3 linked regions of the Homo sapiens genome follow. The protein of the gene in region 1 purifies or fractionates together with the protein of each later gene. This does not show direct contact. Each region holds a gene or a part of one and is shown on either strand. Other genes may lie near its edges.

Region 1 (9,290 bases):
AAGGGCCTGAGACCCTCCCTTCCCAGGCCACAGAGGCCCACGAGGCCCTGCTGACATCGAGGAAGCTCGGTGCCCCAACCTTCAGGTAGAGCAGTAGAAAGGTTCAGAAACCACTCTGCCTGCACCGATGGGGTCCTCTGCACATGGCACCCCCAGAGAGCTCCACTTCCAGGAACAGGGAAGAGCAGGGCACGCCCTCCAGCCTGGGCGGATCCTGGCTCAGACGGCCTAGGTCTGACCCTAGCCCTGCTGAGTCACTTAACGCCCCCGTGCCTCAGTTTCTCCACTGGCAGGTGGGGTTAATCCCTGTCAAGTGTGTGTAACGTGGAGCACCGAAGAAACCACGCGTTCCTAGCCCAGTGCTGGCGCCCACCGGGGAGCAAACAAAAGGGAAACCACTGTGCCTGGCGGCTGGGGTAGGTCCTGCCGGCTCCTCGGGCTGGACGATCTCACTGTCCCCGTCCTGGGGCCTCATCTCCCCTTAACAAAAGACCCCAGGCTCAGGGCGCAGGGCGGCGGCCCAGCTCCTCCTCTCTCTTCGCCGGCTTGGACTCCGCCGTGACGGCGCCCACCCCTGCCTGTTTCTGCAGACCCTCTCCACCTTCCCGCAGCCCCGGCTGCTCCACGCCCCCTCCTACCAGCTGCGAGACACCAGCCCACGAGGGCGCGGGGCGCGCGGCCCGGCCGGAGATGGAGTCTGAGAACGGGCCCAACCTCAAAGGCACAGGGGGCGGCGCGGGGGCTGGCGTCTGGCCCTCACAGTGTCACGCGTGAGGTCGGGACGGAGCGTCCGCGCCTGCCTAGCCCCTGCCCTCCGGCCCTCACCTTCCGGAAGCCGGATCCAGCTCCTGCTCCCTCCATGACCGCAGCCTCAACGCGCGCCCACCGGAACCCCGCCCCGCGCCTCCAGCCAATGAGACCGGAGCGCGCCCCCGGAGCCCCGCCCCGCGCCCCTAGCCAATGAGTCCGAAGCGCCTGCTCTCGGAGCCCCGCCCCCACGTCTCAGCCAATGAGCCCGGAGCGCGCCCTCCAGCAGCCCCTCCCTCACGTCCCGCAGCCAATGAACTTGGAACGCGCCCTCCCGGGGCACCACCCTCACGACCCTCAGCCAATGAGCCCGGAGCATGCCCTCCCGGGGCCCCACCCTCATGCCCCTAGCCAATGAACCTGGAGCGCGCTGCCCCCTCTCAGCTTGCGGCCCGAAAGGCGCGCCAGTTCCTTTGTTCTCATTGGCCCGCACCAAGCGCTGCCTGCGCAGAGCCTGCTAGGAGTTGTAGTTCCCGCGGCCTCTCCCGGCGCGCCTTGTTCTTCCTGGATACTGAGGCCCCGACGCGGCTGTCGCGAGGGCGGGGGTCGGGGCTGCAGGCGGGGCAGGGCTGGGTGGGGGCGCGCGACGCACCTGCCTGCTTCCTGCACGGGTGGTCCCCAAGCACTGCGGGGCCCCAGCCCAAAGCGGACCTTGACTACCGCCCAGCCCCGCGCTCCCAGGACCTCCCGCCCGCGGAGCCCACTCGGATTGCTCTCCGCCCGGGTCGGCGGAGGCCCCGTCTCCTGTACCCGGCGCTGGGACTGCTCCGCACCGCGCGGCTCCCTTTCAGCAGCTGCGGGAGCATGCGGAGGAGGCCCTGCCGGCCCCGCGGGTCATGGAGGAGTTCCGGCGCTCCTACAGCCGCCTGTGCAGGGAGAGTGGGGCCGAGCCCCAGGAGGCTGTCCTGCAGCAGCTGCACCAGCTTCCCAGGGGCCGGCTGGACCTGGCCACGCAAAGCCTGACGGTGGAGACCTGCAGGGCCCTGGGCAAGCTGCTGCCGAGGGAGACGCTGTGCACGGAGCTGGTCCTGAGTGACTGCATGCTCAGCGAGGAAGGTGGGCAGGCGCGGCGGGGTGGATCCCTCTGCTCCTTAGCTGCCCACACCATTGCCTCGGCAGCCCGAGGTCGCTTCCTCTCCAGGCTCTCCAATTTCTGTGCCGTAGTTAAAGCGAGCAGGGGCGCCCCTTCCTGCACCTGGGAGTAGAGGGCAGTTCCTCTGTATGACGGGGGAGAGGCCTTAACATTCGCGGTCTTACCTGGTTCCCCGCGTGCAGAGCCGGCTTGGTGCCTGGCAGGGGCTGCAGGTGTTTCAAACATGACTTCGCAGCGAGACTCTTGGCCAGCGCCAACCCAGACCATCGGGACAGTTGTCCCTTCCTGGGTCTAGGGAGCTGCCCTGAAAAGGGGCCCACGGGGAGGGCCTTGGGGTCAGCAGGGGCAGAGAGTGACCGCCGGCCCCCCTTACACAGGGGCCACACTGCTGCTCCGAGGCCTGTGTGCCAACACCGTGCTGCGCTTTCTGGACTTAAAGGTGAGATACCTGCACTCTTGAGTGTCCGAGTGTGCCACCCAAGGGCAAGAGGAGAGGTGGAAGATGCCAGGTCTCGGGGGCCTGGGGTCTGGGCAGGTGGCTGGAAGCTGTCTGTGAGTCCCCAGGCCGCTCTCTGATGGCCTCCTGTGTGTGACCATCTCCAGAGCAAGAGTTCACATTGGCAAACAAGCCGGCCCTTGGAAGCCCCCTGAAGACAGGGAGCCCAGGAGCTGAGGAAGGCTGCAGGGTGCACCCCAGGCTTGTCCCCTGGCTGACCAAGGCCCTTGGGGCATGGGCGGGAATTCAGAGCCAGTCAGGGCACGCGAGTGACTACCGGCCTGTTTCTCTCCTAGGGCAACAACCTTCGGGCTGCAGGGGCCGAGGCTCTGGGAAAACTCCTCCAACAGAACAAGTCCATTCAGAGGTGGGTGGTGGTCCCGACCCCAGGCCCTGTCTCTGTGTGGTTGAGGATTGGCCCCGAGCACATGCTTCTGCAGCCCAAGAGTTCCCCATTGCCAGGTGCCCATGTTTCACATACGTTGGCAGGGGTAGGCAGAGGCTCCGGCCCATCAGACCCCAAGCCCACACCCGTCCCCAAGCCCTGGACCCCACGGGCTAGGCAGTCCCCTAGGTGAACACTGGCTTCTGCCCCTCCTGCAGCCTCACGCTGGAGTGGAACAGCCTGGGCACGTGGGACGATGCCTTCGCCACCTTCTGCGGGGGCCTGGCGGCCAACGGCGCCCTGCAGCGGCTGGACCTCCGCAACAACCAGATCAGTCACAAGGGCGCGGAGGAGCTGGCCCTAGCCCTGAAGGGCAACACCACCCTCCAGCAGCTGGGTGAGGCCTCCCAGGCGCCCTCAGGCTCCCTCATCCCTCTGAGGCTGCCTCTGCTCTGGGAAGTGAGGGGCTAGGGGACTGGCCTGTGCTCCTGCTCTGTTGATGACTGCAAGGCAGTGCCCCCTAGGGAAGCACCCCGGCCAGGCCAGCTCCCCCTCTGCCAGGTGCATTCTGTCTGGTGACTACAGGTTTCCTTCCAGACCTGCGCTGGAATAACGTTGGCCTCCTGGGGGGCCGGGCCCTCATGAACTGTCTCCCCAGCAACAGAACCCTGTGGAGACTGGACCTGGCTGGGAACAACATCCCTGGAGACGTCCTCAGAGCCGTGGGTACGGTGCAGGGCTGTGTGGAGTGACGCGTGAGCCTTTGACAGAGGCCTGTCCACCGAGGGCGGGGTGCCGGGCTCAGGACGGGAACTGATGAGGAGAGCAGCCTGAGAGCCCAGGGGAAGCAGGAAGGAGCGGAGGGGTCGTGGGGCACCTGTTTGGCACTTGAATGGCGTTCGCCACACATGGGCACTGTCCGAGGCGCCCTGTGTACTTGCTGAGTTCTTAGGACCTGTGCAGTGGAGGGTGCCCGTTTCACAGCTGGGGAAGCTGAGGCCGTGTGGCTCACAGTCCTGGCCTTGGTGGCTTTGCTGATGCTTCGGGTGGCCCAGGTCTTGGCCTTGGCCAGGAAGGCTCCCTGGTCACCCTGAGTCTGTGGCCCTGCATGTGAGTCAGGTGAGGTGGGGCCCCCTGGCTTGTGCTGGCCTCCACACATTCCCTCCCACCAGCGACCCCGAATCCTTGCAGCTGATGTCTCAGCCTCAGGCCCCAGTGCCCCAGACTCAGCTGGGGACTTTGCCAGGCCCCCCGTACTCCCTAATCCGCGCACAGCGGCAGCCTCTTCCAGCCCCTGTGCTGAGGGCTCATCCCTCCTGCTGGTTCTGCCTGGCCTCTGACTCCAGCTGCGCCGTCCCTGGCTTCGCCTCGGCACTGCCCTGGTTGTTGTCATCCCTCCTGACCTCTGCCCCCTCGCCACATGCTACCCAGATCTTTCCAGAACTGAGCTGGGCACAGCATTTGCCTCAGCATTGTGCAGTGCCCCTTGACCTTTGGGATGGTGGCCAGATGCCCCAGGATGGCCCTTGCCTTTTGCGGTGGAGCAGCTCCCACCACCTCTGCCCCACATGTGCACGCGCTCCCCAACACCAGGCGGCTCTTGCTCACAGCCCGAACCCCACAAAGCACTTCCACCCCCATGCACTGAGGGGGCACCCCTGACTTGCCGGGTGAGACGCTGCCCCACACGGCATAGATTCCCAAGCAGCCAGCCGCTGGGTGCAGGGCTGGTGGCCACCAGCTACTCCTGAGGCTAAGCAGCCCCGGGGTGACACAGCTCCTTTGTGTGTGTGTGTGTGTGTGTGTGTGTGTGTGTGTGACTGAGTTTCACTCAGTCACCCAGGCTGGAGTGCAGTGGCGCAATCTCGGCTCACTGCAACCTCCACCTCCCGGTTCAAGCGATTTTCCTGCCTCAGCCTCCCGAGTACCTGGGATTACAGGTGTGCGCTACCATGCCCAGCTACTTTTTTGTATTTTTAGTACAGATGGGGTTTCACCATGTTGGCCAGGCTGGTCTCGAACCCCTGACCTCAGGTGATCCACCCACCTCGACCTCCCAAAGTGCTGGGATTCCAGGCATGAGCCCCTGTGCCCAGCTGACACAGCTCCTTCTGCAGAGCAAGCCATGGGCCACAGCCAGGACCGGCTCACCACCTTCCAGGAGAACCAAGCCCGCACTCACGTCCTCAGCAAGGAGGTCCAGCACCTCCGGGAGGAGAAGTCCAAGCAGGTGAGGATGGCGCCTTCACTGACCTTGGAGCTGCTTATGGCTGGAGGGCCTGGCCACGTCCTTCCTCCCTCAGCCCCGTGGTCTGCCCATCTTCCCTTCCTCGGGGCCCTGGAGCCTCTCTGAGTGGCTGGTACCAGGAAGGAGGGGCGGCCTCCTGGTCTGATCTGCAGGTGGACTTCCTTGGGGAGCTGGCGTCTGAGCCCTGAGGCCTCGCTCTGCAGGGGCCACCCTTCCTGTGAAGGAGACAGGGCACCGTGGGTGGAACCCTCCGCTGCCTTGCCACATTGGTGGGCGCTGGCTCTCCTTCCCCCTGAGAAGGTCAGGTGGACAGGCTGCAGGTGCCCTGACAGGGCTGCGGCTGTCTCTGTCCCCAGTTCCTCGACTTGATGGAGACTATTGATAAGCAGCGAGAAGAGATGGCCAAGAGCAGCAGGTGAGCGGGCCCAGGGCAGGGGCAGGGTGAGGCTTCAGGGATCAGGTCCTGGCTCAGACTCAGATGGGACCAACCTGAGCCCACGAGTGAGGCCACGAGGAGGTCGCTGGAGGCTCAGTGCCCAGGCGACCATAGATGCTTAAGGAACAGCAGCAGCTACCGAGGCCAGAGGGGTATGGGAGCGCTCTGGGGTTTGGGTTACTCTCTGCACCCTCCTCTCTGCCCACAGGGCGTCGGCAGCCCGTGTAGGGCAGCTTCAGGAAGCCCTGAATGAGAGGCACTCCATCATCAACGCTCTCAAGGCCAAGTAAGTGGGGGGTGGCCTCAGGATACTTCAGAGACGTGCCCACAGGGCAGAGAAAGGTGGTGTGAACCTGTGTGCAAGTCCTGTTTGCAAAGCAGAGGTGGGAAATGGTGAGGCTGGGGCAGTAACCCAGAAGCCTTCCTGGAGGAGGCGGGTGCTGGCTGGGGTTGACTAGGTGCCCAGCAACAGTGAAAGCAGCGAGGCCTTTATAAGGCAAGTGAAACTCCAACCGGGGCGGGGGTGCTGCCCCTCCTTTCTGCAGGCTGCAGATGACAGAGGCCGCCCTGGCTCTGTCGGAGCAGAAGGCCCAGGACCTGGGGGAGCTCCTGGCCACAGCGGAGCAGGAGCAGCTGAGCCTGTCACAGAGGCAGGCCAAGGAGCTCAAGCTGGAGCAGCAGGTGGGTGGGCAGGGCTTGAGAGGGGTGGGCCAAGGGGTGCGTGGCGGCTTCGTGACCCTCACTACCCATACCCCGTTCCCCTCCCAGGAAGCTGCAGAGCGGGAGTCTAAACTCCTCAGAGACTTGTCTGCTGCCAATGAAAAGAACCTGCTTCTGCAAAACCAGGTAGCTGTGGTGGATGGAGCCAGGGAGCCCAGGGTGGGCGCGGCAGGGCTGGGCTGCAGCTTCCCTCCCTGGTGCCGGCTTTCAGGTAGACGAGTTGGAGCGGAAGTTCAGGTGTCAGCAGGAGCAGCTGTTCCAGACCAGGCAGGAGATGACCAGCATGTCAGCTGAGCTGAAGATGCGGGCCATCCAGGCCGAGGGTGGGCACGGGCAGGCCTGCTGTGGAGGGGCCTGGGGATGGGCACCGGGGGACGGGGGCCCCCAGGGGATGCTCACGCATACTCTGCCCACCCTGGGCTTCCAGAGCGCCTGGACATGGAGAAGAGAAGATGCAGACAGAGCCTGGAGGACTCCGAAAGCCTGCGCATCAAGGAGGTGCCCTCTTCGTTGGCCTCTAATGCGCCTCAGTCTCTGGTCTTGGTGTCACGCAGGTGTCCCCAAAGCACACACCTGGTGGGAGCTTCCCTTGCCAACCTTGGGTCACTGGGTGGCCGTATTTTGCCAGCCTGAGCGGATGTCAGACCCAGAACCTCCTATTGGGGGCGGCGGGGGGACCCCGGCAATGTCTGAGCCGTAGTACAGGCTGCCGTTGAAGAGACACCAAGGCCCACTCGTTCAGGGTGTGCATGCTGCGGTAGTTTCCTGCTAGGCCATCTGAGGCAGTGCTTTCTCAGAATGAACAAGGTTCTCAAGAGACACCTGCCTTTCAGGGTGGGGAGTCCGTGAGGAGAAGGTAGGGAGGCCCGCTCTCCACTCTGGCCCCACAATCCCTGCCCCTGAGCAGGTGGAGCATATGACCCGTCACCTGGAGGAGAGTGAGAAGGCCATGCAGGAGCGGGTGCAGAGGCTGGAGGCGGCGCGGCTGTCCCTGGAGGAGGTGAGTGCCCACCAGGCAGGGCCAAGCTCTGCCTTAGTCCTGGGCTGAACAAGGCAGGGGCCCCTGGTGTTCGCCGCCTCAGGACCAGAGACCTCTTCCTGTTCCCAGAGGCTCATAGGCCCCACCTTGGGGACCCACCCACCAGTGTGCCCAAGAAGCTAAAGGGACTTAGGTGGCATTCGGACTTCCTTGGCCTTAGGAACCTTGCCCAGCGAGCTAGGTGGCAGAGCAGCTGCGTGGCCCTCAGGAGGCTGGCAGAGAGGAGCCCCCCTGGCTGGGGTTGGCTGGATGGGCCAGAGAGAGAAGGGCCCTGGGCCAGGGACAGGAGAACGGGCTGGCAGGTGGCCATCTGTGCAGGAGCTGAGCCGAGTGAAAGCAGCGGCACTCAGCGAGCGTGGCCAGGCTGAGGAGGAGCTGATCAAGGCCAAGAGCCAGGCCCGCCTGGAGGAGGTGAGCCACACATGTCCGCCACCCTCCGGGGGAGCCAGGCTGCCCGGCATTGCGGCCCGCATGCAGACTCCAGAGCTTCGGTCTGAGTGGGGAGGCGGGAGTGTGGTGTTGAGGTCAGATGAGCACACCCTGGACACTGGTGGGTCCGCTTCAGCCTTGGATCAGGGCCTGAGACGGTGGAGAGGTTTGGCCCATCTCTGCAGCCTGTGACTACACGCATGGATGGATGGGAGGGGTGGTGTGACCGAAGAGGGAGGAGGAGAGCCCAGAGGGCATCTGGAGGAGGTGGCTGCCAGGGGAGCGGGTTCAGAGTCATAGTAACTAGAGCAGCCAGTCCTGCAGAGAGGTGGGGTCGTGCCCGTGCAGACATTCCCTCAGCTGAGCTCAGGCTGAGCCCCTCATGCTTCGTGGCGGCCCCTGTGCTCACAGCAACAGCGCCTGGCTCACCTGGAGGACAAGCTGAGACTGCTGGCGCAGGCACGGGACGAGGCGCAGGGCGCTTGCCTACAGCAGAAGCAGGTGGTGGCCGAGGCCCAGACCCGGGTCAGCCAGCTGGGCCTGCAAGTTGAGGGCCTGCGGCGGCGCCTGGAAGAGCTGCAGCAGGTAGGCGGGGCTCCGGTGGGGGGCCCCGGGCGTGCTAGCCCCCAACCCTCGCCTCACTCCCCAGCCTTCGTGCCTGGCAGGAGCTGAGCCTCAAGGACCAGGAAAGGGTGGCCGAGGTGAGCAGGGTGCGCGTGGAGCTGCAGGAGCAGAACGGCCGGCTGCAGGCGGAGCTGGCGGCTCAGGAGGCGCTGAGGGAGAAGGCGGCGGCCCTGGAGCGCCAGCTGAAAGGTGAGCCAGACCCTTGTCCTCCCGCCGCCCACTGGTGGGACGTGAGGCCAGCCAGAGAGCGGGGCTGGCCAGGTCTCCCGTGCTGAGGCCGTGCCACGGTGCGCTGGGGCTGCGTCCGCTCACTGCGCTCCTTGCCCTGCAGTGATGGCGAGCGACCACCGAGAGGCGCTGCTGGACAGGGAGAGCGAGAACGCGTCTCTCCGGGAGAAGCTGCGGCTCCGGGAGGCGGAGATCGCCCGCATCCGGGACGAGGAGGCCCAGAGGGCGAGCTTCCTGCAGAACGCCGTCCTGGCTTACGTGCAGGCGTCCCCCGTGAGGACCCTGAGCCCCCCAAAGTGAGACAGGCCGGGAGGACCCGGGCGCAGTAGGAGTGCATCAGGCGGCGCCCGAGATGGACCAGGGGCTGCGTCCCGCCCGCGCCGCCTCTTTGAGACCCGGGTCGTCTGTTCCACGCGGCGGTTGCGGCGACTGTTGGTGGTGTCGCGGCTGCGGGGGAACCCCGTGGGAGGCGCCTGGGAAGGGCTCCCTACCGGCCCCTTCTTCCCGGTCGACGCCACGTGGGAGCACACCGGGAAGGGGTCCCGCGGGCGCGTCTCCCCCTCGCCTTTTGCGATGTCACCGTGAACGCTGCGGCCGCCTGCGCGCGGCGGGGTTTGGAAATACAGCGCGTTTGCACTTTGTGATACATTCTGGCCCCGCCTCTCCCTCCAAACGCGCGACCGTCCGTGCCTCTCCAAACGCGCGGCCCTCTGCCCCCAGCCCTGCAGGGAGGGCCTGCCGGGGTGCGGCTGTTCGCCCCTCCTCGCCGCTGCCTTGAAGGGACG
Region 2 (9,498 bases), on another chromosome or scaffold:
GAAGAATTGGGTCAAAGATGGGTAAAAGTTATCAGCTCCAGGGGGAGCAGCGGGGACAGGGGACCACCATAGGAGGGAGAGGGACTGAGGCTGACCTGAGTCAGCCCACGGCCCCGTCTCCACTGCAAAGTCCCATGAAGGAAAAACGTGGCGTACCTGAAGTTATTCTACTAGGGCTCAGTAGTCAGAAACCCCCAAGACCACTTCTCTGTGTGGAGAAGGGCAGGGTTTTGCCAGAGCTCTTTGAAGGAGGGTGAGACTCACGTTTTGAACTCAGTTAATAAAGAAACAAATCCCCAAATGCCCTGTAATGGCCAGGCCCCCAACTCCCTGGAAAGCCTTGCAGAGTGGGCAGGATTCATGCTGAGAGGAAGAGAGTGAAGCACTGGGTCTACAGGATGATCCAAGGCTCATAAAGACATCAGTAGGAGTCTGTGAAGTGAAGCTGCTTTCCTGAGGTCAAGCCAGTTGTTTCCACCACACGGTTCTCACCTTCGTAACTCAGCAGTCTCTTGTCACCAAGCTAAAACCCAAAAGGTCCCTTTTTGGAGAATGGGATTTATTATTACCATAATATAGTGATCATTTCCAGCAAATTTTGAATGCCAGGGAAAACTACAGTTGTTAGGTGTGGAGAAAAATGTTCCCTCCAATTGCTGCCTTAAATCTCTCCACCAGGCTTTCATTCTCCCTTAGCATTTACACAACACTTCTTTGGAAATCCCAGCCTACTGCAGTCCAGCTAAGGAGAGCTAAGAAGGGGAATAAGGTGTGGTGTTGTTGATTTTTTTTTTAATTCAACACTTTATTCTTCATTTTTTTAGAAACAGGGGGCCATGCACAGTGGCCCACGCCCCTAATCTCAGCACTTTGGGAGGCCGAGGAGGCCAGATCACTTGAGGTCAGGAGTTCAAGACCAGCCTGGCCAACATGGTGAAACTCCATCTCTACTAAAAATGCAAAAAAGTAGCTGGGTGTGGTGGCGCATGCCTGGAATCCCAGCTACTCGGGAGGCTGAGGCAGGAGAATCGCTGGAACCCAGGAGATGAAGGTTGTAGTGAGTCGAGATCATGCCACTGCACTCCAGCCTGGGTGAAAGAGCAAGACTCTGTCTCAAAAAAAAAAAAAAAAGAAACAAACAGGGTCTCACTCTGTTACCCAGGCTGGAGTGGAGTGGTGCAATCACAGCTCACTGCCGCCTCAAATTACTGGGCTCACGTGATCCTCCCACCTCAGCCTCCAAGTAGCTGGAATTACAGGCATGAGTCACAACACCAGTGTGAAGGGAATGAGTTTTAAAAGAGGTATCACACCTTGGCCCCCGGTTCACCAGGGGCCAAATGAAGGACAGTGTAGGGATGAAGCTTCATGAATAGGCAGAGCTACCTCTCCCTACACATGTGGAAGGAGGAGAGAGAAGCCAGGGCAGTGCTTCTTATCAAAAGGCACTACAGGAGGATCCCGGGGCGTAGGGGTCTGGTCATGATTTCAGGCCTTCTTCAGGATCCATTAAGCAGACCTACCGACTGAGGGAAGAAGTAGGGTTTAGGGTCAGGCAGAGTCCTGATCCCCAGGGCCAGTTTCTGTGGGGCAGGAACATTCCCCCGTAAGAGTGGCTCCTCTGAAGAATGTGCCCTCTTACAACCTCCCCTAAAACTCTGCCCCCTCCAGGCTGCTATTTTTGTCTTTAGGGGTAGGGAGCTAATGGGAGGGAGCAGCCCCCCAGTGAACCAGGCAGGGGAAGAGCTAAGAGGTGAGCTCCCTTGGGCCAGCAGCTGAGAACATCCCACTGAATCAGAGACTGCTGAGTGGCCCCCGGAAAGCTCTCCAGAGAGAATCCAACCCCGTTTGTAGAAAAGGAAACCAAGCCAAAGACAGAACTTCCCGTCTGGCCTTGTAGAGTAAGGATGTTTCTCTCTAGGTTTGGTTGCTTTTCTTTACTCTGAACCAGAGAAACCAAGGCCACATCAGCAGAGAAATCAGTTCCCTTGTCCAGTCACTGCTTTCCGCTGGCTCCTTCCTAGTGGGCTCCAGGACCAGCCTCACTCTCTCTTTCCCTTTGCAATCTTAGTACCTGCAGGATCCCCCCTCCTGGGTGTGAGTGTCCCAAGAACTAACTTCTCTCCACTTTTCAGCCCTGCACTCAGGGAGGGTCTATTTAACCACACCCACGTAGGCAGAGAAAGTTGCAGATGTCTGCAGTGCTCCAGTGGAAAAGACCCTGGTGTTGAAGATGTCAGACTGCACTGATTTTAGAAAACCTTTCTCCTAACATTGTACCACAATGTTCTCCAACTTCCGTAAGGAAATGAAATTCAGTTTCTCAACAAGTCTTCTCTCACCTCTCTAGAAAGCCATGCTCTTCGCTCCCCTCCCCACATAACAGGAGAGTTTTGCTGGTTTTACCTGGGCTGCAAATTCTACCTCCCAGGGAAATCCTAAACCTGGCTTAGGATTTGGCTCCCCAAGGAAGAGTCTTTTCGGTGATCACCTGGGGCTCTCTACCTATTACCAGCCAGATCCATCTTACTTAAAAAAAAAAAAAAACTGAAGATGTTTTTGATTTTTTTTTTTAGTTTTAACCCGTTAAACTCAAATCAGATTGGTAAGTTACTTGCATAAATAACTTAGCTTGTAAACATTTAAAATACTTTTTTGAATGAACATATTTCAAAAGCAAATGTGTGTGAGAGAGAGAGGAGAAGGAAGAAGAATGTTTGTTGTTTATCTTTAGGGAAGAGGAAAACCTAGAAGTTTCATTTTCTGTTATATATTTGATTTTTGGTTTTTGGGTTTTTTTGTTTGTTTGTTTTTACAATAAGTTTGCGTTAATTTTAAGATCAGTAAAGTCAACAAAATTCCACTTTGACAAAAAGCCCATGTAAAGAAACACTAATTTATCCTTCTTAAATGAAACATGAATGCCCACCAGTGCTGAAAGTATTGGAACCAAGAATATAATTTGTGCTCGATACACCTGTGCTGAATTAAAACGGTCTGCGGTGATGAGGTTTAATGCAGAGGACTAGAAGGTCAGGGTAGCCTCTGAAAAAAGAAATAATGTAAGAGCAGCTGAGAAATGGGGAAAGCTTGGGCCAAAATGCAGATGGGCAAACAAACTGAAAGGCGGGAGAGACAAAGGCCTGCCCTGGGAATGGCTCAGCAGCGCTTGTAGAAATCCAGAGTAAGACATTCTTTCTATTCAAGGAAGTCACAAAGTTTTTTAAAGACCCGCGGTTACAGCCAATGAATGGAACCAATGGTCTTTTTAACCAGAAGACCCCAGGAAGGCAGAAAATGAGCCAAAGAAAGGCCAGGCAGGGGACAGTGGGGAAAGGAAACAGGGATGGAGAAGCAGAGAGGGAAGTGCAGAGACAGGTCACCCAGGCGCCTGGAAACTGCCTCTATGGCCTTCACGGGAAACGGCCTCTTTCTACTCCGGATCCCAGACTGTGTTTCTTTGAAACTGACCGTCAGAGGAGAGCGGCTGGAGGCGGACAGACGTCTGCAGTGGGAGGCGCTCCAGGCGTTCCAGGCAGTGTCCTGCCGGCGAGTCACCCGCGACCGCGAGTCACCTCACCAAGCCCTGAATTGGGACAGGAGACGAGACGTGTCGACGAGCTGCGGAGTTCCTCGCTTCTCTGGGCCCTGCCAGGTCCAAGAACAGGTTGCCATATAAAAGAATCGTGAAGGGACCCCCTTCCCCATGCAAATTATGTCATATAACGCATATGCCTGTGAAGTTTCTCTGCGGAGCTGCCAGATAACTCGATGACAATATTTTATGCGGTAACATTTTGTTAAATGTTGACTCGATGGCCACTTGACGCCATCTGAACTCTGAAAGCTCGCGTAACAATCATCCTCCAAATGAAATTTTACCCCCTTCTCCCTTTAAAAGGCGGTGGGGACAAAACATCACTTCGTCACTTAAGTCACCATCTCCTTCCTCTTATCTGGGGCTCCCAGCATAGTTCTAGGGGTTCCCGCACTCCCCGCCCGGGTTTGGGCTGCGAGAAGCGCCCGCCTGCGCCCTGCGGGACCTGACCCTGCCGGCTCTGGCTTCACCCTCGCTGCGCCTCGGCCCGGTGGGCTCCCCGCCCAGAGCCCCGCGCGCTCCGTCGCCGGGACGTGGGAGAGGTAGGCACGGGGTGGACCCGAGGAAGCACATCCCGCCCGCGCGCTTCCCCCACGCCCACCTCGCTCCGCACACACCAGCCCCAGAACCTCCCGGCCGCGCGCCCGCCTCCCCGCGCAGCCGCGCCGGGCCGCTCTCTGCTCCTCTGCAGCTCACAGCCAAGGTGCACCAGAGCCTCCGTCACCGCCCCTACAGGTAAATGGGCACGTGGCCAAGGCAGGGGACGGGCTAGACCCCTGGGAAGAGAGAACGGCGGGAGCCGGGCCGCGGGCGACTCACCACTCGGCCTGCGCAGAGAGCCGCTACACCCGCGGCGCCATCCTCGCACTGCGACACCGGCGACAAACGCAATGCTCCAGGGCCGGACGAAGGGACGGCTCTCGGGAGGCTCGCAGACGGCGGGGCGCGGGTCTGTGCGCCGGAGCACTCGAATGAGGGAACCACCTGCGAGGTGAATCTCATATGGAGTCTGCGAGCGGCCCCGCCCTGCCCGGGGGTTACCGCTAGGCTCGGGCCCCGCCTGCCCTGGGCCGGCGAACTCAGCTGACCGCATCCTGGGCCATCCCGCAGACAAGCCCCGCCCGCCCCCACCTTCCTCTGCCCCTCTGGCCCCGCCTCCCCCGCCTTCCTCCTCTCCACCCTCCCGCGAAGGTCCCGGGAGGCTCAGCCCGCAATTGCTTCTCGCCTCTGCAGAGCAGCTGGGCAATTGTAAAGAACCAGCAGCCAGTTCTGTTACTCATTAAACAGCCCCTACTACAGAGGAAATCTTCTTACCCACGTGGTCCTAACCTGGGGCGGAGGAAACCGGGCTAGAAGCGGCTCTAGGACTAACCCAAGGTCACGCCGCCAGGCAGGATCCCCGGTCTGTCTGTCTGGCGGTGGCCCCGCGGCTGGGGCCAGCGGAGAGAAATGACAGCGTGGAACCAGCCCTGGCCCGGTGGTCGGGAATGTGGAGCTGGCACTGTCACTGTGTGTACCCTGGATCTCTCTGGACGGCCTCGGCTTCCCCCCTGGGGAGTTTCTCTGGGACCTTCCTGATCCTGGGAGTTCCCGCTTGCTGGGGCAAAGCCAGGAGCTCGCCCGAGGAGGGGAAGTGACTCATTCACTTCGAGTCGCAGCTAAGTGGCCGAACTGCCTCAAACCGGCGCTGCACTCTGACCCCCAGGGGCCGGACCTGCCTGCCCCCGGCCGGTGCCCACTCTCCGTCTCAGGCGTCTTTCCTGGTCCTCTCCCTGCTTCCCGAACGCGCACTCTGGTGAGAGCACAGAGCCTGGGAAAGAAGACGACCTAGAGGCCCGGGCAGCCCAGCACCTCTGTTACTTGCTTCCTAAAGGGAACTCCAGTTCCTGAGAAAACATGGGGTTGGGCCGGGAGTGGTGGCTCACGCCTGTAATCCCAGCACTTTGGAAGGCCGAGGCGGATGGATCACCTGAGGTCAGGAGTTCGAGACCAGCCTGCCCAACATGGTGAAACCCCGTCACTACTAAAAATACAAAAAATTAGCTGGACGTGGTGTCGCGTGCCTGTAATCCCAGGTACTAGGCAGGCCGAGGCAGGAGAATTGCTTGAACCCAGCGAAGGATGCAGTGAGCCGAGATCGCGCCATTGCACTCCATACTGGGTGACAAGAGTGAAACACACAAACAAATCAAGGAAGGAATTAAGGGTTTTATTGAAAATGAAAGTACGGCCAGGCGCAGTGGCTCACACCTGTAATCCCAGCACTTTGGGAGGCCGAGGCGGGTGGATTACAAAGTCAGGAGTTCAAGACCAGCCTAACCAAGATGGTGAAACCCCGTCTCTACTAAAAGTAAAAAAAAAAAAAAAACAAAAAAAAAAACCTAGCCGGTCACAGTGGCAGGTGCCTGTAATTCCAGCTACTTGGGAGGCTGAGGCAGGAGAACCACTTGAACCTGGGTGGCAGAGGTTGCAGTGAGCTGAGATCATGCCACTGCATTCCAGCCTTGGTGACACAGTGAGACGCCATCTCAAAAAAAAAAGGTAAATGAAAGTACACTCCACAGTGTGGGAGCGGGCCTGAGCGTAGGGGCTCAAAGGCCCCATTCCAGAATTTTGGGGAGTTTCAATGTCCTCCGCTTGGGGCACACACTATGTAAATGAAAGGGATGATGCAAAGTTACAAAGTCATTTACTTGGCCTACGCAGAGGCTATTTCCTGTCATAGCTAAAGTGTGAATCGGCCTTATGTTCCCTGCCTCCAGACCCTATTTTGCTGCCTCAGACTGAAGACTGAAACTGGCCTGGTTAGGAAGTTGCTATTCTCTCTCTCTGAAGGTAGATTAACAACTTAGTTTTAGTTTTGTTACCGGAAAAGGGTCCCAATCCAGACCCCAAGAGAATGTTCTTGGATCTTGTGCAAGAAAGAATTCGGGGCCAGGGTGAGTCCACAGAGTAAAGTGAAAGAAGCAAGCTTATTGAGAAAGTAAAGGAATAAAAGAATGGCAATTCCATGGGCAGGGCAGCCTCTAGGGCTGCTGGTTGGCTATTTTTATGGTTATTTCTTGATCATATACTAAATAAGGGTGGATTATTCATGAGTTTTCTAGGAATTCTTCCTTTTAGAACATATAGGGTAACTTCTAAATGTTGCCATGGTATTTATAAACTGTCATGGTGCTGGTAGGAGTGTCGTTTAGCATGAGAATGCATTGTAATTAGCGAATAATGAGCAATGAGGAAGACCAGAGGTAGTTTTCCTCACCTTGCTGGTTTTTGGCAGGTTTTGGCCAGTTTTGGCTGGCTTCTTTACTGCATCCTGTTTCATCAGCAAGGTCTTTGTAACCTGTATCTTGTGATACCACCTGCCAACCTTCTATTTCATCCTGTGACTAAGGATGCCTAACCTCCTGGGAATGCACTCCAGCAGATCTCAGCCTCATTTTACCCAGCTCCTATTCAAGATGAAGAGTCTCTGAGTCGACTCCTGCTGACATATTTCCTGACTCTACAACCCTTAGGATTAAGGGTTCCCTTGTAAAAGGGAAGGGGGAATAACCAAATAACTCACCCCTTTCTTGGAAAACTCAGGAATAATCCACCCCTTGCTTAGCACATATTCAAGAGTAATCATAAAAAATACCCACCAGCAGCCCTTGGGGATGCTCTGCCTATGGAGTAGCCACTCTTTTATTCCCTTCCTTTCTTAATAAACTTCCTTTTACTGTTCTCTGTGGACTCACCCCAAATTCTTTCTTGTAGGAGATCCAAGAACTTTCTCTAGGGCTCAGGATCAGGACGCCTTTCCAGTAAGTTTGGTGACCTGAAACGTTAGCATGGGTGACTTTATTTTTATTTTTAGTCTTGTCTTTTGGGGCCTAGTGCAAGAGCTTAGTCTAAAACAATGGCCTCCTATAATTTGTGTTTAACATTTGTCAGGTTAAAACCTTGTCAGTGTGACAAACTGGAAACAAAATTGTGTCGGGCCACTACTAAACCACACCCAAAATACCTGTGTCATCAATGTTTGCAAGCAGAGAGCAAATGCAGCCCACCAATGGCCACCTAGAGCAGCAGCTGCTAGAGGCAGGAAAGTCTGGAAGAGACCCAGGGCTTGCAGGCTCAGCCAGGATCCCCCTGCTCCTCAACAAGGTCTTTGGGCTCTTTCAGAGATGCAGTTGGCCCTGAGCTCTGAGAGGTGGGGAGGGAAGGGGCTGAGAGGCTGAAGGCCAGGCCACACCAGATAGTGACACACCACTGCCCTTCAGGTTTCCCAAATCTAAGTAACTTCAAACTCTTTGAAATTCTCCCAAAGCTAATGTGTCTACCTAAAAGAAAGATGAGACAAAATTAACATAGAGAGTTTATTTGTGCCCAGGTTGAGGACTGTAGCCCAGGACACACTTCTAAGTTGCCATGGGGAGTGCTCCAAGAACAAAAAGGAGGCTCAAGTTTTTAAAGAAAAAAGAACAACTCAGGAGATGGGGCGATTGCAGAGTTGTCAGGAATCCTCATTGGTTTACAGAAATAACATTGGTTAGTGATTGCCCACACAGTGTTGAACTATAGGGTGGATGGCATCTTATGGCTAATTGGCCTCAGTTATTCTACAGCCACATAGCAAGTGGCTTCAAGAGGTAACCACTTAGCTGAAGGGGAAGTGAGCCATGACTGCTGTTCTGTTCTAAATGTTCTCTGGGCCTGATAATTTAAAGGCTCACCTTCCTCAGGAAAAGAAATGTGTTTGTTGTTTGTTTGTTTGTTTTCTTTCTCAGATAATATTTTAGAGATAGTAGCTGAGGCTTCTTCTCTGTTTGTCCTCACTTCCCAATTCCTCATGCAATTGCTCTTTTCTTTCCAATCCAGCAGCCATACAGATTTCTAGAACACCCCTCAGAGAGGGCAGAAATTGAGCCGCAGTGTTTTCTAAACAGCTGCCTGGTCCATTCGTGGGTCATGAAACCCATGTGGTGGGTCACAGCTAGCATTTTCATTGTCAGTGAGACAGAATGGAGTGAAAAAGCCTCTGCCTGCTTTCCACACCAGAGCACGTACTTTTATCACACGAACTATGACTCAGACACCACAAACCCAGACCAGGCCTCCAGGTCAGAAGTTGACTCCCCTGAGGCCTGTGGTGAGACTACAGCATGACTCAGACCCCTGAGATTTCAAATTCTTGCCAAAATACAAAAAGTGAGATTCTTCCCGCCAACTCTCACTCATCATATAGAGCTACTCAGTCCCCTGACCCACCCCCAGCTCAGATAGGCTCACAGTGGCAGGCCCACTCCCCTGGCAGCTGAGTCCAGTCTGATGAGCCATCACTTTCCCAGGTTGCTGGTCCTAGTAGTCAACAAAGAGAGTCAAACTCTGTAAAATATTTGAAGAGATTTATCCTAAGCCAAATGTGAATGACCATGGCCCGTGACACAGCAAACGGCCCTCAGGAGGTTCTGAGGACACGTGCCCAAGGCGGTCAGGGTGCAGCTTGGTTTTATATGTTTTAGGAATGCATGAGACAGCAATCAAATACATTTAAGAAATACATTGGTTTGGTCCAGAAAGGCAGGACAACTCAAAGCGGGGTAGGGGGCAGGGTTCAAGGCTATAGGTAAATTTAGACATTTTCTGGTTTACAATTGGTTGAGTTTGTCTAAAGACCTGGATTGATAGAAAGGAAATGTCCAGGTTAAGATAAAAGATTGTGGAGACCCAGGGTATTTGAAGTCTTATAGTGGCTGCCCTTAGAGACAATAGATGACAAATGTTTCCTATTCAGATCTTTAATAAAAGGTGCTAGACACTTAGTTAATCTCTTTTTTTTTTTTTTTTTTTTGAGATGGAGTCTCACACTCTCACCCAGGCTGGAGTGCAGTGGCGCGATCTCGGCTCACTGAAAG
Region 3 (9,481 bases), on another chromosome or scaffold:
GCAAGGTGACTGGTTTGTTGCTATCTGCACTGAGTTGAGTAGGCTGGTCCCCGCTGCACTGGGATCAGAGATCAAAATACAGCACCAGCTGAACTGAGCTTTCTGAACCTGCTTCCCTGGACACCCAGAGGATCCCTCACCAGGTCCTTGACAGCCTGAAGGACACAGCTCTGCTTCCAGCCCCTTAGCAAGAGGCCCAAAGAGCTGAGTGCATGGAGGCTGTGGGCAGACCAGAGCACAAGAGATTGTTGCCTAGGCAGAGAGACACTGGGATTGGCTGACCGAGGCAGCACTTTTGGGGAATAGGTTGCCACGGAGAATCCACAGGTGTCAAAAAAAGTCATCACTGGCCCTATGTGAATACTTGGGTCTCTGCCCTGCCTGATGTGTCGTGATGAGGTTTTGTAGGAAATGCTGGCCAGCAGAGGTGTCCCTTTGCTGGGGCTGAGGCAGTTGCGGCCTCTCATGTAGTTATGAGGGAACCTGTTTTTTCACATGTGAGTTCCCCCAGCCCAAGAAAGCCTGTCATGCTCTGGGGTTGCCTTGTTTTTCTTAGGTGAATAAGCTTTAGGATTACCTTTCCTAAATTCATAGAACAGATAATCCTTTGTAGAAAAAGCAGGCTGGGTGTGGTGGCTCACATCTGTAATCCCAGCACTTTGGGAGGCTGAGGTCGGCGGATCACCTGAGGTCAGGAGTTCGAGACTAGCCTGGCCAACATAGTGAAACCCCATCTCTACTAAAAATACAAAAATCAGCCGGGCATGGTGGTGGGTGCTTGTAATCCCACCTACTTGGGAGGCTGAGGCAGGAGAATCGCTTGAACCAGGGAGGCGGAGGTTGCAGAGAGCCAAGATCGTGCCACTGCACTCCAGCCTGGGCAACAAGAGCGAAACTCTGTCTCAAAAAAAAAAATAAAAAGAAAAAAAGAGAAAACAAAAGTCTCTGAGATGGAACCTCACGATTACTGGCCTTTTTTTTTTTTTTTTGAGACAGAGTCTTGCTCTGTGGCCAGGCTGGAGTGCAGTGGCACGATCCCAGCTCACTACAACCTCCGCCTCCTGGGTTCAAGCGATTCCCCTGCCTCAGCCTCCCGGGTAGCTGGGACTACAGGCACGCGCCACCACGTCCAGCTAATTTTTTGTATTTTTTAGTAGAGACGGGGTTCACCATGTTGGCCAGGATGGTCTGGATCTCTTGATCTTGTGATCTGCCTACCTCAGCCTCCCAAAGTGCTGGGATTACAGGCGTGAGCCACTGCACCTTGCCCACGATTACTAGGCATTTCTAAGCTACTTGCCAGAGTGATCCAGGAGCCTGCCGTGGCCTTGTCTGGCCCCTCTGCCTGCCACATCACCAAGTGTATGCTTTAGATGGGGCTCAGCAGAACACAGTTCCTCATGCAGTTAGGACCAGCATGTGAAAAAAGCTTCCAGTCCCCAAAAGGAGTAGGGCCAGGGCCACAGCCCGGCTCTCGATCCCTTCACTAGGGGCAGCCCACTTCAAGTCCTCAAGACCTCCAAGTCTAGACCCCAGAAAGAGGAGTCTCAAGTTATTCCTTAGAAAGCCTCAGTGGACAAACAATATGCTATTTGGGAAAAAAATAGACCTGGCATTATTGTTTCTTCCCAGCTTTCCTGGGCATTCTGAGAGCTTTTGTTTCTCCTCAGAGGAGGGTTCTTTCAAAGTCACCTCCTCCGTGAAGCCTTTCCTGATTCCCCCGAACAAGGTATGGTCTCTCCTGGCACTTTGTTCCTCTGACACCAGTTATCATCACGGTGATAATAGTTATCTCTTGCTGAACATGTACGTATGTGCCAGTCATGCCATTCAGAGCATTCACTTATTATCTTATTTAATCCTCTCAACAACCCTAACTCATAGGTACTATAATTATCTCTGTTGGACAGGAGAGGAAATTGAGACCCAGAGACATGAAGTAACTTGCCCGAGTCACCAGGAAGAGGCAGCACCGGGCCTGAGGCTCATGCTGCTGACTTCATGTTAACCAACCACCATCCTGCCTCTTCCCGCCCTGGTCTATCTCCCCGAGCCTTCACCTCCTCCTGCAACTGCAGATAGAAGCTGCTTCTTCCTTTGTTTGTCATTCTCAACTTATCTTTTTTGTCCATCTTTATAAAGTTCTATGTTAAGAACCGTTGCCCAGTATTGGTGTAAATTTATAAATTATCTGGGCTGGATGGGTCATGGCTGCCAACTTCAGCGATGAGTTGGACCCAGAGTTGGCAAAAGGACGAAGCCACCTGGGGGCTGATGGTGGCTTTGTGGCTCCGCTTGTTTCTGGCGCGGTTGGCCCCACGCTCAGCTCAGCTTTCCTTTCCACTGCTCTGCTGCAGGGCTATGAGCATCCCCAGGGCAAGAGCTCTGTCCTGCTTTGTCCACCCCCTCTTCCTGCCACCAGTGCTTGCACCTAGTAGTCAGGCCATGGCTGTCATCTGCTTGGCAGCCTGTGCGCCAGAACAAGGTGCTGCCTGGACCCCACACCCTCCCAGGAAGAGACACGGTCCCCTTTATCTCACATCTCACTCTTCTCGCTTTAGCCCTTCCTGGCCCCTAGGGCTGAGCTCTGGTGGGGTGGAGGGCACCTCCTCAGAAGGGGACAACTTCCCAGGCCCAGGCAGACTGCTCGCCCTGGGCAGGAGGGCCAGCCTTGGCTTCAGCAAGTTCAGAACTCATTCTGCCCTCAGAAGCTTCCATTTGCAATGCTCCTCCCCAACCTGCTGGCTAGTCCACCTCTTTCTACCAAGGAGGCTCCCAGAAATAAGCTCTCTCCTTGAGGCCCGGTAGGTGCAGGCGGCCAGATGCCTCCTGATGAGCTTTACTGGTGTCCTTCCTGCTGCTCAGGTCTCAGGCACTGCTTCCGCAGCCTGGGCCTTCCTGCTCAGGGCGACGAGCGCATCTTACGGGAAGGACTTTCTGCTTCAGTCCACAGGACAGCCTCCCATGAGTCCTTCCTGCCTTCTGCACCCAGGACACTGTGTGCGGTGGGCATCTCTGGGCCATTTGGGTGAGGAATTCAATCTTTCAGTGTCTTAGCCTCTTCCCTGCCCAGTCACCTACGCAGAGGGCCTCTCCCACAGAAGCGGGCTGGCATAAGAAGGCCAGCTGTCTGGAGTCCTCCCTGAGCCCTCAGGACCCCAGGCAGCCTTTTCCTTTCCTGCTCAGCCTGCCCTGGCCCCTACTCTCTGCTCCCTCCTGGCCCAACCTGCTGCCCGCTGCTGGCCTGCTGTCTACCTAGTGCTCGACAGCCTCCGCCCCTCTGACCCCAACTGGGCAGCAGCCCCTGCTCAGCTCTGCATGCATGGAAGACTCCTAGGCACAGAGTCACCTTTTGTGAGGCAGCATGAGATACCCCCACAGCTGGGTCATTCTCCTCATCCAGGAGCCAGGTGTGGGAATTCACTGGCATGAGAGACACTTATGGGTTCCTCCTGACTCTGAGCACATGTGCTCCTCCAGGGCAGGGGACTTTTTGGTCATCCTTAGGAGTTGTGCACAGAGCGGGCTTTCCTTGGCTGGAGACCCCACCCACTGCACCCTCCCTGTGTCTGGCAAGTCCGGGAGGGCCCAGAGCACTCACAAAGCATCAGTTTGTCCTCGGGGCACTGGAGAGGCCGTGCAGTCCCCACACTCCCCCTCTCAGGTGCACAGAGCTTCCATCCAAATCAGCTGCTCCCAGAAGGGCTTGCCTCTGGTGCCGACCCTTCCCTGACCAGGCGCTCTGTCACTAGGGCTCCCAGGTGCCACCTCCAAGCCTGGGCCAGGACAACCGCCAGGGAAGCCTGCCTGCAGAGGGGACTCCTTGCTTGCCCCAAAGGCCTCAACCCCAGCTAGATGAGCTCCCGTGGGGCTGAGTCCCAGGCCCACCAGGCCTGGGGGCCACACGGCTCCTAAGCTCATCCTCTCCTCCTGCAGCCCAGTTCCCACCAGAACCAGCCTCAGGAAGACCCCAGGCAGAACGGCACAAACCTCTTGGTGTACAATGCCAGGGAAAGGATAACTGGAGACCACAAGACGTTAGCCTTGCTTCCCGGTGGGGCCCAGTGCTTTATAAACCCGAGCTCACTGGGCCCGATGTCCCCAAAGCTGACCAGGTCATCCACCCTGCAGCAGGGGTGGGGAGACCAAGGCCTGTGAGGAGTGACCGTGCTTGGCCAGGCAGCTCCCTGAACCTGCCCTGATGCTGAGTTTCAGAGTCAGAATCTGTGCCAGGTCAAACCCAGCCAAAGGGTGTGACTTGGAGCCTGGGACCCAGCAGTGCTCCCTAAATATTTGTGGAATGAATACACAAGGGAAATGTCCCAGAGGTGGTAAAGTGAGAGGGGCCTTGGATAGGGGTGTCCCGGTGGCACTGGCTTGGCCCAGCTGGGGCAGGAAGAGTAGAAACAAGCACCTCTCCCTCTAGCTAGGGAGCCAGAGACCAGCTGGGATTGGACTGTTTCACAATCAATCTGGAAAGAAGGTGGCAGGCCGGGTGGGGAGTGGAGCCCCTTGACCCAGGAACCCACAGCTGTGGAGTTAGCCTCCCTGTCCCAGGTGGGAGGCAGCCTGGACACCTTGGCACCCCCGTCCCTAGCCCAGGAATCCGGAGCACGCAGCGGCAGTGGGGACCTTACCGTGGCTGCTCCTTCTGGGCAGCGGGGTCCTGCGTTCTCCACTGCAGGCTGGTGCTTGTCTCTAGCCCAGGAAGCGGCACTCCCTTCAGGCAAAATAGAAAAAAAAAAAAAAAAAAAAAGGAAAAGAAAACCTCAGTGCTTTTCTCACCCAGCCTCTTCTCTTGAAGGCTCCTGGTTGGTATTGTCCTGCCACTGTGGGCACACAGCCTCCCTCCCTCTGGCAGCTTACTCACTGGTGCCCGCAAAGCTGCCAGCTGTGTGGGGGAGAAGGGACCTCCCCCCTCCTCCTGACACACACTGGGGCATGCCCTGTGGGGACCAGGGGCTTGAGGGTGGCACCCGCTGGGTCCTGATCATGGGGAAGCCGTACCCTGGCCAGCACCCTTCTCACTGAATGTGTCCCTGTGAGCTCAGCAGAGACGCACATGGGTGCTGACTGGCCCTGCATAAGAGAGTGACATGGTTCTTGGTAGGAAGCTGTTTCCTTGGTACCCAGGCCTGCCAGAATGAAGGGGCAGCTGATGGGCTGTCCAGCCCCCCAGTGATGGGCTCTCACCCTGGCCAGCCCCTCCGGACGGCTTCCTACCTGGGCATCTTGCTGTGTCTCTGTCCTGTGCACCCAGACAGGGCCTGGGCCTGCCGGGGCTGGCAGCTGCTCCTCACCCTGCTCAGGCCGTGTGTCTGGCGTCCCCTCTCCCTGACGCCCATCTCAGGGCCTGCGCCCACCCAGCATCAGTTAGGATAAACTCCTGTCAAGCCCCCAGCCAGCTCTCTGCTGGACCCAGCTGCTGTCCCCAGCAGGGGGACGGCACACACACTGGCTTACACACTCTCGCACTCACACACACGTGGGTCCACACCCAACACAGAGCCACCTACCTGCCCAGGCCAGCCTAAGCCAATCCAGCCTCGCTCTCCAAATGCCACTCCGACCCCAGAAGCCACTCCTTTACCGAAACATCCCCGTGGGAGATGAGTTCAGAGCCAGCCCGGGAGGACTCCAGTCAGCTCGGACAAGACTGCCCTTCTGTCCCAACACCTCCAGAGGACACACACAGGCAGCCTGACCACCATATCTGCTATTGCACTCTGCCTGCTGCCACAGCCCCCCGGGCACTTCTGGCCCCCACAGCGTCTTCCATATCTTTAGGGGGTGGCAGCAGACTCACAGCAAGTCCCATCTTCCTGGAGCCCAAGGTAGGGAGGGGAGAGCTAGAAGGGGCGGGACTCAGGTGCAGCTCCAAGTTTCCAGCTCCCAAAATAATCAGATGCAAAGGAGAAGCAAGAACAGCTCGAGGCGGGCGGTGACTCAGTGCTAGTGGGCCGGCTTAGTCACCTGGATGGCTGCTGGCGGCTCCTGGCACATCAGGACGGGAGCAGCGCCCTCCCCCACCTGCCTGGACCGTGGCTGTCTCCAGAGTGTGGCCGCCGAGCCCCGCGCCCAGGGCTGCCTGGCAGGCGAGGCCGCTCCACCCCGCTCCCGCCCATCAGGGCCCAGCGGCCCCGGCTGCGGCGCGCCCCTCCTCCACCGCGCGCCCCGGCTCACTTTGGGATTTCTCCATTAAATCCTCAGGCATCGACCTGCTCGTTTGGGGCGCCGAGCTGCTCCAACGTTGCTTGGCAATTTTGATATCGTCGGGGGTTGCCATGGGGAGGAAGGTGATGTCATTGACACAAAAAACCCACTGAATTTACAAATCAGCTGGGGCTGGAGCTATTTATAAAAACACGTTTTTATCTGCCTTTCTTTGCTGAAGGGGAGGAGGAGGAAGGGCTGCCTGCCGGGCTCAGGGTGAGCCTCCCTGCTGTCCTTCCTACCCTTGCCCTAGAGAAGCCAGACCTCCTTGGCTCACCCCCACCCCCACCCCCCAGAACTTGGAGCTGCGCATTCAGATCTGGCAGGTGCTGGTCTCAGCTGGTTTTGCTTCGAAGGCTGAGAGTGGCACATGGGATGTAAGGCAGGGTGGGTGCTGGCTTCCTGGGCTGGCAGGGACCAGAAACCAGTTACTCAACCGGGTCCCTTTATTTCATTGCCCCTGGTCAGAAACAGAGGCATTTGCTGGTGAGGCAGCTTGAGCTCCTTGATGTGCCCCCCTGCCAGCTCCCCGGAGCGCCAGGTGGAGCCCAGCCTTCCACAGTGCCCTCCCCATCCCTAGCCTCAGTGTCTCCTCCACTGGCTTCTTTTCTTCTCCTAGTGTCCAATCGTGGGCTGCCCAAGCTCCAGGCTTGGTCCCCTGCTCATCTCTCCCCACACTCAGCCACCACTCCATCAAAACACCTTTTTTCTGTGGCTTTGACCATCACCTGGGCAAATGCTTGCCCGAAAACCCATTTTGTGCCTGCCCCACTTCAGGCGCCACCTCTGATGGCCCAGCTCCCACTGCCAGGACCCACTAGCTATTGACAGCCAGAGGGAAGCCTGGGAGTTCTTGCCTCTTCCCGTCCCCCAGTCCCTTATATCCAAGGTGGCACTTGGCTCTACATTTTATTTTTGAAAACTTTCTAACTTTCTTCTGTAGCGAAGCCATGTGGTGTTTGGTTAAAAGTCCAGGCTGTGAGTCTTCAGTCTTCCGCATCTCAGCTCCACTGTTCATCAGTTGAGTGACCTTTGGCATGTTATTGAACCAATTGAACTTCAATTTCCTCATCCATAAAATGGGGATGATTTCACCTGCCTCACAGGGCTGTGGAAATTAAAGGAATAAAGTTTCTGGCACAGAGACTGCTCATCTTGATCCCAATAAACATTAGTTTTTATCCACCCCTCCACTGATGGCAGATTAATCTTCCCAAATCATGACCCTAGGCACCTTCTGTGCAAAGGTCTCAAGCTGCATGCGTAGACATTTTGATTGAACGCAGTGTTAGATGTCATGGCATTAAACATAAGAATTTCAATTTGTGGCCAGGCACAGTGGCTCACGCCTGTAATCCCAGCACTTTGAGAGGCTGAGGCGGGTGGACCATGAGGTCAAGAGATTGAGACCAGCCTGGCCAACATGGTGAAACCTCATTCCACTAAAAATACAAAAATTAGCTGGGCGTGGTGGCACATGCCTGTAATCCCAGCTACTTGGGAGGCTGAGGCAGGAGAATTGCTTGAACCCGGGAGGCGGAGGTTGCAGTGAGCCAAGATTGTGCCACTGCACTTCAGCCTGCGCGACAGAGCGAGACTCTGTCTCAAAAGAAAAAAAAAGTTCAATTTGTGGTCAATATGAAACATTTTCCCTTTAACTAGGTTATCAGTTCCTTTTGGAGAGGAACTCTGTATTTTTCTTCTTTTTGTATCTCAATGTAATTTTGTGTGTAAACTTATAAATAATCCACTTCTGCTCTGTCTCACTAAGGAATGATCCAGGAAATGCAAACTAAAACAAAAGGGATATACCACTCCCTGTCATTATACAGTGAAAAAAAAATGGCAGGTGGGAGAGTGAATTGGTACAGTCTTCTTGGAGGGCAATTTTACAGTCTTGACCAAAATTTCAAAATGTGTATGTACTTGATCCAGCAAATGCACTTCTAGGAATCCAAGTTAAGAAATAGTTGCACATCGGCCTGAAGATATTTGTATAAGAATATTCATGGTAGCACTGTTTGTAACTGCAAAGAATTTGAAGCCACCAAAATGTGCATCAATTGGGCAGATTAATTGGGTGACAGATCTATACAGGATGGTACATCCCCATGCAATGAAGTATCTGCAGCCTTAAAATGAATGAGTTTTGTCAGTCGGTATGTATGTACCAGCTATGTGTGTACCGGTATGCATGTACATACGTATGTATGAGGAAGGATGACCACGATAGTTGAGCAAAAAGACCAGGTTTATCAATGTTAACTTGAAAATGAGATGGCATAATCTCATATAAGTTTTTTTATTTAAAGATATTTCTATATCTGTATGTTTAAACCGCAAACTGTCAATGTGGTTATCCTTGGAAATAGGAGTGGTGGTGAGAGGGGTCTTTCACTTTGGACTTTTTACACTCTTGCATTGTTTCAGTGAACATGTACTGTTGTATTTAAACAATACAAAAGTAAAAATAAAGGAATGTATGTTTTTAAAACTAATAATAGGCCAGACGCAGTGGCACACGCCTGTAATCCCAGCACTTTGGGAGGCCGAGGTGGGTGGATCACCTGACGTCAGGAGTTCGAGACCAGCCTGGCCAACATGGCGAAACCCCGTCTCTACTAAGAATACAAAAATTAGCTGGGTGTGGTGGTGGGCACCTGTAATCTCAGCTACTCAGGAGGCTGAGGCGGAGAATTGCTCGAACCCGGGAGGTGGAGATTGCAGTGAGCAGACTGTGCCATTGCATTCCAGCCTGGGCAACAGAGCGAGACTCAGTCTCAAAACAAACAAACAAACAAACAAACAAACCCTAATAATAGAAAACCAAGAGCTATGAAGAGTACCTAAAACTTGTATATTTGAACATTTTCCTCTGCAAAGTCCACTTTAAGGCAATGTGGGGATATGGAAAACACTTTTTCTTCCTTCATGTCTTTCAAATTTTCAGAAATGTTGTTAGAGGGAGGGGCAACATGAAGATGTGAAGGCACTAAGGCAGGAGATAGAGTTTATTACGTTAAATTCAAAACACTATCATCTTATTCAGATAATAATTACAATGACTCTCTTTAAGAAATGTAACATTTCTAAGTTTCTGCCAGTTTATGAGAAGCAGGCGGAAATTCCTGAAGAAACATCAACAATTTCATAAATCAAGAAAAATCATGTTTTCCAGATTTCTGCTATAGTAGCTAGCAGAGATAATAGCCATTTCATGAAAGGAACTGAGAACTAAACAAACCAGCTCTCCTGAATCTGCATCAGT

What was found.
Region 2: the proteins of LRRC45 (region 1) and UPP1 purify together in Homo sapiens (affinity purification with mass spectrometry; one large-scale study listed by BioGRID and IntAct). This does not show direct contact.
Region 3: the proteins of LRRC45 (region 1) and PAK6 purify together in Homo sapiens (affinity purification with mass spectrometry, with the first as the bait; one large-scale study listed by BioGRID). This does not show direct contact.

What each region holds. Positions count from the first base shown.
Region 1 is NC_000017.11:82,022,001-82,031,290, forward strand, and holds LRRC45 (leucine-rich repeat-containing protein 45), read left to right. Parts: upstream 1-1,304; 5' UTR 1,305-1,643; coding exon 1,644-1,863; intron 1,864-2,277; coding exon 2,278-2,339; intron 2,340-2,692; coding exon 2,693-2,763; intron 2,764-2,999; coding exon 3,000-3,178; intron 3,179-3,378; coding exon 3,379-3,507; intron 3,508-4,898; coding exon 4,899-5,011; intron 5,012-5,385; coding exon 5,386-5,444; intron 5,445-5,673; coding exon 5,674-5,751; intron 5,752-6,010; coding exon 6,011-6,146; intron 6,147-6,233; coding exon 6,234-6,311; intron 6,312-6,396; coding exon 6,397-6,508; intron 6,509-6,612; coding exon 6,613-6,683; intron 6,684-7,018; coding exon of another isoform or gene 7,019-7,045; exon of another isoform or gene 7,046-7,092; coding exon 7,093-7,185; intron 7,186-7,542; coding exon 7,543-7,635; intron 7,636-8,064; coding exon 8,065-8,238; intron 8,239-8,318; coding exon 8,319-8,466; intron 8,467-8,608; coding exon 8,609-8,805; 3' UTR 8,806-9,151; downstream 9,152-9,290. Other genes in the region: CENPX (centromere protein X), read right to left, coding at 826-861. UniProt on the Homo sapiens protein: Component of the proteinaceous fiber-like linker between two centrioles, required for centrosome cohesion.
Region 2 is NC_000007.14:48,084,338-48,093,835, reverse strand, and holds the start of UPP1 (uridine phosphorylase 1), read right to left. Parts: upstream 4,572-9,498; 5' UTR 4,418-4,571; intron 3,649-4,417; 5' UTR 3,472-3,648; intron 1-3,471. UniProt on the Homo sapiens protein: Catalyzes the reversible phosphorylytic cleavage of uridine to uracil and ribose-1-phosphate which can then be utilized as carbon and energy sources or in the rescue of pyrimidine bases for nucleotide synthesis.
Region 3 is NC_000015.10:40,235,838-40,245,318, reverse strand, and holds the start of PAK6 (serine/threonine-protein kinase PAK 6), read right to left. Parts: upstream 6,257-9,481; 5' UTR 5,517-6,256; intron 5,457-5,516; exon of another isoform or gene 5,224-5,456; intron 4,721-5,223; 5' UTR 4,638-4,720; intron 1-4,637. UniProt on the Homo sapiens protein: Serine/threonine protein kinase that plays a role in the regulation of gene transcription. The kinase activity is induced by various effectors including AR or MAP2K6/MAPKK6.